Linked DNA regions of Homo sapiens. The protein of the gene in region 1 purifies or fractionates together with the protein of each later gene. This does not show direct contact. Each region holds a gene or a part of one and is shown on either strand. Other genes may lie near its edges.

The links.
Region 2: the proteins of SIRPG (region 1) and SPCS2 purify together in Homo sapiens (affinity purification with mass spectrometry, with the first as the bait; one large-scale study listed by BioGRID). This does not show direct contact.

Annotation. Positions count from the first base shown.
Region 1 is NC_000020.11:1,651,280-1,654,779, reverse strand, and holds part of SIRPG (signal-regulatory protein gamma isoform 1 precursor), read left to right. Parts: intron 1-3,500. UniProt on the Homo sapiens protein: Probable immunoglobulin-like cell surface receptor. On binding with CD47, mediates cell-cell adhesion. Engagement on T-cells by CD47 on antigen-presenting cells results in enhanced antigen-specific T-cell proliferation and costimulates T-cell activation.
Region 2 is NC_000011.10:74,955,766-74,959,265, forward strand, and holds part of SPCS2 (signal peptidase complex subunit 2), read left to right. Parts: intron 1-3,500. UniProt on the Homo sapiens protein: Component of the signal peptidase complex (SPC) which catalyzes the cleavage of N-terminal signal sequences from nascent proteins as they are translocated into the lumen of the endoplasmic reticulum.

The DNA.
Region 1 (3,500 bases):
GGTTTGCAAATGTTTTCTTCCATTCTATAGGTTGTCTCTTCACTCTGTTGATTGTTTCCTTGGCTGGGTAGAAGCTTTTTTAGTTTGTTGTTAATGCCTTTTGTCTATTTTTGCTTTTGTTGCCTGTGCTTTGGGGCTCAAATCCAAAAATGTATTGCCAAGACCAATGTCATGAAACTTTTCTTCTAGTTCTTGTACAGTTTCAGATCTTACATTTAAATCTTTAATCCATTTTGAGTTGATTTTTGTATGAGGCATGAGAAGAAGGCCTAATTTCATTCCCCTACACATGGATATCCAACTTTCCCAGCACCACTTTTTGAAGAGACAGACCTTTCACCATTGTGTTTTCTTCACACTTTTGTCAATAGTCAATTGAGTGTGAATGTGTGAGTTTATTGCTGGGCTCTCTGCTCTGATCCATTGGTCTATATATCTCTTTTTATGCCAGTGCCATGCCATTTTGATTACTTTGACACTGTAGTCAATGTTGAAATTAGGCAGTGTGGTGCTTCCATCTTTGTTCTTTTTTTTTTTTTTTTTAGATGCAGTCTTGCTCTGTCGCCAGTCTGGAGTGCAGTGGTGTGATCTCAGCTCACTGCAATCTCCACCTCCCGGGTTCAAGTGATTCCCCTGCCTCAGCCTCCCAAGTAGCTGGGACTACAGGTGTGCACCACCATGCCTGGCTAATTTTTTGTATTTTCAGTAGAGACAAGGTTTTACCATGTTGGCCAAGACGGTCTCGATTGCCTAACCTCGTGATCTGCTCGCTTCGGCCTCCCAAAGTGCTGGGATTACAGGCATGAGCCACCATGCCCGGCCCCATCTTTGTTCTTTTTGCTCAAGATTGCCTTGATGTAGCATATCACATTTGGAGATTTATGAATGTTATACCATCCTTGCATTCCTGAGATAAATCTCATGTGACCATGCTGAAACACACACAGAATTTTAAAGACTTTCTTTACTGTAAACTTCAACTCATTTTTTCAGTCTATATGAAATGCACATTGAAGAGATGTGTGGTTTTCCCTATTGCCCAGCCACTCTCCCTCCTTCCTACTTCTCTAATCTTACCACTGAAAGTCCTCCAATCTGTTAATAGAAGCAACAGATAAGCAAACTTCTCTCTTGGTAAAATGCATTTTCCCTCAAAGCAGAATTTCTGTGCATTTTTATCCTGAAATTCCCTCTTCCATGAAGGTAGAAATGAGGAAAAAAATGTGGGGATACAGGTGACACAGGTCTGCCTATATTACCTATAACTATAGTTATATTTATATCCATATCCATACCCTTATCCTTATCCTTGTCATCTAATGTCCACTGAAGCCTCCAAGCCTCAGAAATCTACTGAGCAATAACTTTACAATTTTTGAACGTTCACCATGTGGCAGACACTGTTGAAAATGCCTTACCTCTTTTACTTCATGTGATCATTATATACAAGGTAGATATTCTTGTCACCTTTCCTAACAGATAAGAAAACAGAAGCACAAAGTGCTCCAGGCTCACTCATTGGTAACTGGTAGAGCTACGATTTGAACTCAGGCACTCTGACTCTAGAGGTCACAGGTTTCACCATTACTCAAACACTTCCGGTCTTGATTCTATTCCATGAGATTTCTGCAGCTGCTGCTCTTGGGTGTGGAGTGGGCAATGTGGTGTGAAGGGAGATTGTGGTTTTCTTCTCTGGGCTCTTCTACTTTCTGTATGTTTGCAAACTGATTTTTTTTCACTAAGTCCTCTACATGGGAAACTCATTTTCTGTCAAATTCCACAGGAGCAAACCACCTAAAATAGAAGATTTCAGTCTTCGAGGGAAATGTCCCACTGAGCAATTCAAACATTACACACATATCTATTGGATACCTACTATGTGCCAGGATCTGACATAAAAACATGGGGTACTTTGGTAGAATAAAAGAGAAAAAGTAATTGCCCTTTTGTTGCTTACATCCACTGCAGAGAAAGACAGTAATCAATACACATGATAAATAGGTGAATGAAAAAATTAATTTTTGACAATGATAAGTGCAATAAAAATAAAGTATGAGTAGGTGAATGTTATCATCTTGTGAAAGTATTCATATATCCTTTTTATTGTTTTCATCGTAAATAGATGTACAAATTTACCAGATGCTTTTCTGCATCAAAATAGATGATCATGTGTTTTTTCTATTTATTCTATAAATAAATATTTGTAGAATACCATATTGTTTGTCTGTCATTTGTATATTGAAACATACTCATATTCCAGGAATAAATACCACTTGTTCATGGTTTATAATCCTTCTTACATGCTGTTCAATTCAGTTAGCTAGTATTTGGTTGAGGATTGTTGCATCAACAAATCCAGTAGTAATAAGGCCACTGTCAACAGAAAGGTGTGCAGCTGCACCTGACAAATTTTAATTTTGTGTTTCAGTAGAAGTTTAAGTTCCAGTGGGACCCATTTCAGATGAGCAGGGACTGGCCTGTGAGACAACCAGTGGTTAATGCTTGCAACAGGAAATATTCCCCCTAGATCTGGACCACAAGCCAGTAGATTCTAGTAGATAACCAGTCATTTTTTGTTAGAATGAAGTAAAGAACAAGGCAGAGAGGGGCTTTTTTGTTTTGTTTTATTTTTTGTTTTGCGTTAGAAGCCCTGGGGAAGTTTATGACCATCAGGAGTGGTCTAGAAATTCCAAGAGGAATGAAAATCATTGCCAAAGTCTCTAGAGAGAAGAGGTATTTTTGTTTGTTTGAAAGCACTAAAAGGAGTGCCTGTTGATTTTAATTTGCAAGTAAAATTTGTAAATGTAGAATACATTGCCACTGGCACCTCAAAACAACTCAGAGATGCTGGATTATGTGATATTATTATAAGTATCACATGAGTCTTCTTTGAAGAGGTTGCTATAACATCCTGTGCTCTTGAAGAAAGGCAGCTGTCATTATTGATATTGGAATAGGATACACATTTTAGGATAGAGAGTCTTGGCAGCACTCCAAAAGGCAACACATAGCTGTGCATAGCACAACACAAGAAAGGCATCAGGGCAAAAAAAAAACCTTCTCAAATTGTGGAGCCAATCAGTAGCAAATCCGTAAGCCATGAACAGTCAAAGTGCATCTCCTAGGAATTTGCTACCCCGGTTTAGAATAATCCCCTCCTCATTGCCATTAGTGTTGAAAATGGTAGAGTAAGTCCTGCAGGTTGTGTCTTAAAGGATCACTCTAACCTGGTCATGAGAATTTCATCTGGAGAGGCATAGCTGGGTAGGGCATGCCACACAGGAAGCCATATGGGAGGAGCTCCCAGGGAGTAGGCTCAACCAAGCAGATGGGGAAGCAAGAGAGATGAGAGATGAGAAGCCATTGCCTTTAATGGGAGTCAGGGTGGAGGACACCAAGAAAAAGCATGATGGGTTTTACTAGAACGTTTCAGTGTCACTAAGTCACAGAAGAGGAGGACAAGAAGAGGAATTATGGCAGGGACCAGCTTTATCACAGTG
Region 2 (3,500 bases), on another chromosome or scaffold:
TTATTTCTTTAAACTATATGTCATGTAACACAGTGGTATCACAGACACTGATTACTTTAATACTATTACTTTAATTACTAATTAAAATATATATATATATATATATATATATATATATATATCTGCCTGCCTAGGTACCTTTTTCAGCTGTTGCTAGCACCATTTCTCTGCTCTGATCTCCATCTTATCAAATTTCAATAGTAGTTTTTTATATTACTTAGCCTTTCAGTAGCATTTGACTTATTGATCACTTCTTTTTTCTTGAAATACTTTCTTTACTTGGCTTCTAGGACACCACTTGCCCCCAGCTTTCCTCCTACGTCAACTAGTCTTTGTTGTCTTCATTGTTCTTTGGTCTTCTTCCTGACCTGTGTAAATATTGCCAGTCCCTGAGCTTATGAGCTTATTACCCCTGGCCCTCTCCTCTGTCTACCCTCATCCCAAGGTGATACCCAATGTCATGACTTAAATAACATGTAGAAGTTGCTGACTTCTACATTTATATTCTCAACCTGGACCTTTCCTATAAGTCCCAGACTTTTCTGTCCAACCGCCTACTTGTCATCTCCACTTAAATGTCTAAAACATGTATCAGGCATCAATAGCCAGAGCCAATCTCTTGATTTCCGCTTACCCCTCAAAGTGCTTCTCTCCCAGTCTTCTTCATTTCAGGTAGATACCTCCATTCATCTAATTTATTCAAACAAAAACCTGAGAGTTACCCTTGATTCTTCTCTTTGCTTTGTACTCCACAGCCATCTCATTGTCGTATTTTCCTGGCTGTACATCCAGAATCTGACCACTCCTACCTAGAGAGCTGTAGTAGCCCTTTCAACTGGTCTTCCAGCTTCCGTGCTTGGCTCCGTTACATTTTGTTCTCCACACAGCAGCCAGACTGATGTTTTAAAACATAGATCACTCACTCTCTTGCTGAATCTCTCCAGTAACTTCCCATCTCAGTTAGCTAAACTCCAAATCCCTAATTGTGGCCTATTTTATAGCCCCTGCATGTTCTTGATCCTGCTTGTTTCTGTCATCCTCATCTGTCAGTTTCTGCTTGAGTCATTATACTCTGGAAACCCTGGCTTTTCTGCTGTTCCTCAAACACGTTAAGCTTGGGGGATTTTGGTGTACTGTTTTCACTGGGACACTCCAGATTTTCTCATGGGTTACTCCTTTATTCAACTCTGCTCAGATGTTAACTATTTTCCCTCACTATTTTTTAGTCTTTTTAAAAACTCTATTGCATTTTTCTGTATAATCTTTTTTAGAGCCTGGAATTATATGCGTATTTGTTTACTTTTTATCTTCCATACAAGAAGAAGCTCTTTGAGTGCAGAATTTGTCTTGTTTATGACTATATCCCTAGTGGCTAGAACAGTGCTTGGCACATAGCAAGCAGCCATTCAATATTAATTTAAAGAAAATAAAGAGTGTAATTGCCATAAAGGTTGTGTTTAAAAATATTATTTTTTTCTTTTAAAAGAATGTCCAACACTGGAATGAATTGCTATTGAGAGGCTTGGCAGTTTCCTTAAAAAGAAAAAGAAACCCAGAAAAGTCATATAACAGTTAATATTTTTCCAGGCAGTAGGAGATGGATTTCAGATGAAACGGCTGTATGGTCCTCTCCCTGAATTTGCACTCAGCTGCATTTTTCAGAACTGATTGCATGTAATTCTTAAATGGAGCACGTGATCTGCCACCTTTCTAGAATAAGGACTCATCGCACATCTGTATCAATGTAGTACATTCCTAGCCAGTCTTCGTGCCTTAATTCAGGTCTTCCTTGGCAGCATCCCTCTCTCTTCCAACCCTCCCCAGTCAGCTTTGCTGCAGATTGATATCCCTGAGGAAATAGGTAACATTTTATCCAAAATCTTTTTTGCAGATCCTTGAACTTGTAGTGTGCCCTTGCCCCTCTATGTCTACTTCTTACCATTTAGCACTTAGCATAGTTTATAATTCATTGTAAGTATAGGATTTTCCTTAACTAAATTGTAAAGACCATTTTTTTTGTATATCTGATTTCTTGTCTACCCATTGCAAAGGTAAGAAATTCATACTGGATGATTATGCCAACAATTCAGTCAGACTTTAGAAGATGTTAGTTGCTAGTAGTGAAAGGATTGTTGACTACATTTCAGTTTGCTGGTAGAAAAAAATACTTCGTTGTTGGAGCATTACTGATTAATATGCTGAATCAAGTTGTTTTAACTTTAAGCTCTTTTCAGCCTTAGATCTCACACTTACTGGGTTCAGTGGTGGGATGTTTAAGTCATGGATCCAGTGATCTGGCCCTCAAAGAGCTTCAGTCATGTAGGCTTCTCTATTCATGGGCTGGGTTGATGTAGAAGCAGCCCCGTCACTGCTAAATGCAGTTTGTGGTGGAGTAGAGAAGGCAGTGTAAAACCTAAGAATCAGTTTCTCTGGGGTTGTCACTAATGTGTGTGCTCATAATTTAATTAACACATGGTAATTTCCTAACTTCTAACTCCAGTGATGAATGCAGTCAGTAATAAGCACTGTTAAGCTAGTAATTTTCTTTGCAGTGTATCTTGGCCATTTTTATAAAAAATAGATTGAAATTGAAGATTCAGTGTGTTGCTAAGAGCATAATCTCTTTGAGATACCATGTTTTTGCTGAATTGGGATCTAAATTAGATGACAGTGCACATTCTTAAGATAGACATCATTTTCTTCCCAAACTGAACATTTTCCTTTCTTGCTAAATATGTGTGTGTGGGGGGGATATAGGCACTATATATTTCCAACTGAAATTGTAATCTCAGCTTCTGAGTTTGCCATCAGTTTTTATTATCTCCTTATTTTAGTTTAGAACTCCACATATACAAATGGGTATTTATCCTTTTTCCTCCTGTATTCTTCTTCTTGGAAAATGACATGATGGCTCCAACAAGTCATCCAAGCCCTAATTCTAGTAGGTGGTCATCTCTGTCTCTTCTCTTTCATGTTCCTTATAACTAGTCTGTTACTAAGTCCTGCCAATTCTACCTCAGAATACTCCCTTTCAGTCCCCCTACTGCTGCTCTGTTGAGCATTGAGGCTCTGCACTTACATCAGGCCCCATCTGCATCTCTATGTCCAGTGTTACTCCCCTCCAGATCATCTGCCAGGTTGCCACTAAAATGACTTAAAAAAAAAACGTAAATTTGATTGTTATTCCCATGCTTAAAATACTCTCCATTGCCTGCTTCAGAATAAAGTTCAAGTTCTTTAGCCTAATAACTAGGAAATGGTTTCTCTCGGATGCCTCATCTCCTACTACTTTCCCCCTTTGCAGCTTCTGTCTACTTTCTAAACTGGGATAAAGGAGAGAAAAAGTTTATTTTTCTTAAAGCCATGCTCAGTTCTGTCTAAATCAGAACAGGGTCACCATTGACACCACTCTCACCCTTGGTAATTCTTCATCTCTCCAGTGTGAATTGAGGAATCCTTTGAGTCTTATTATCAAGCCAGGGAACTTTATGAAGCAATCC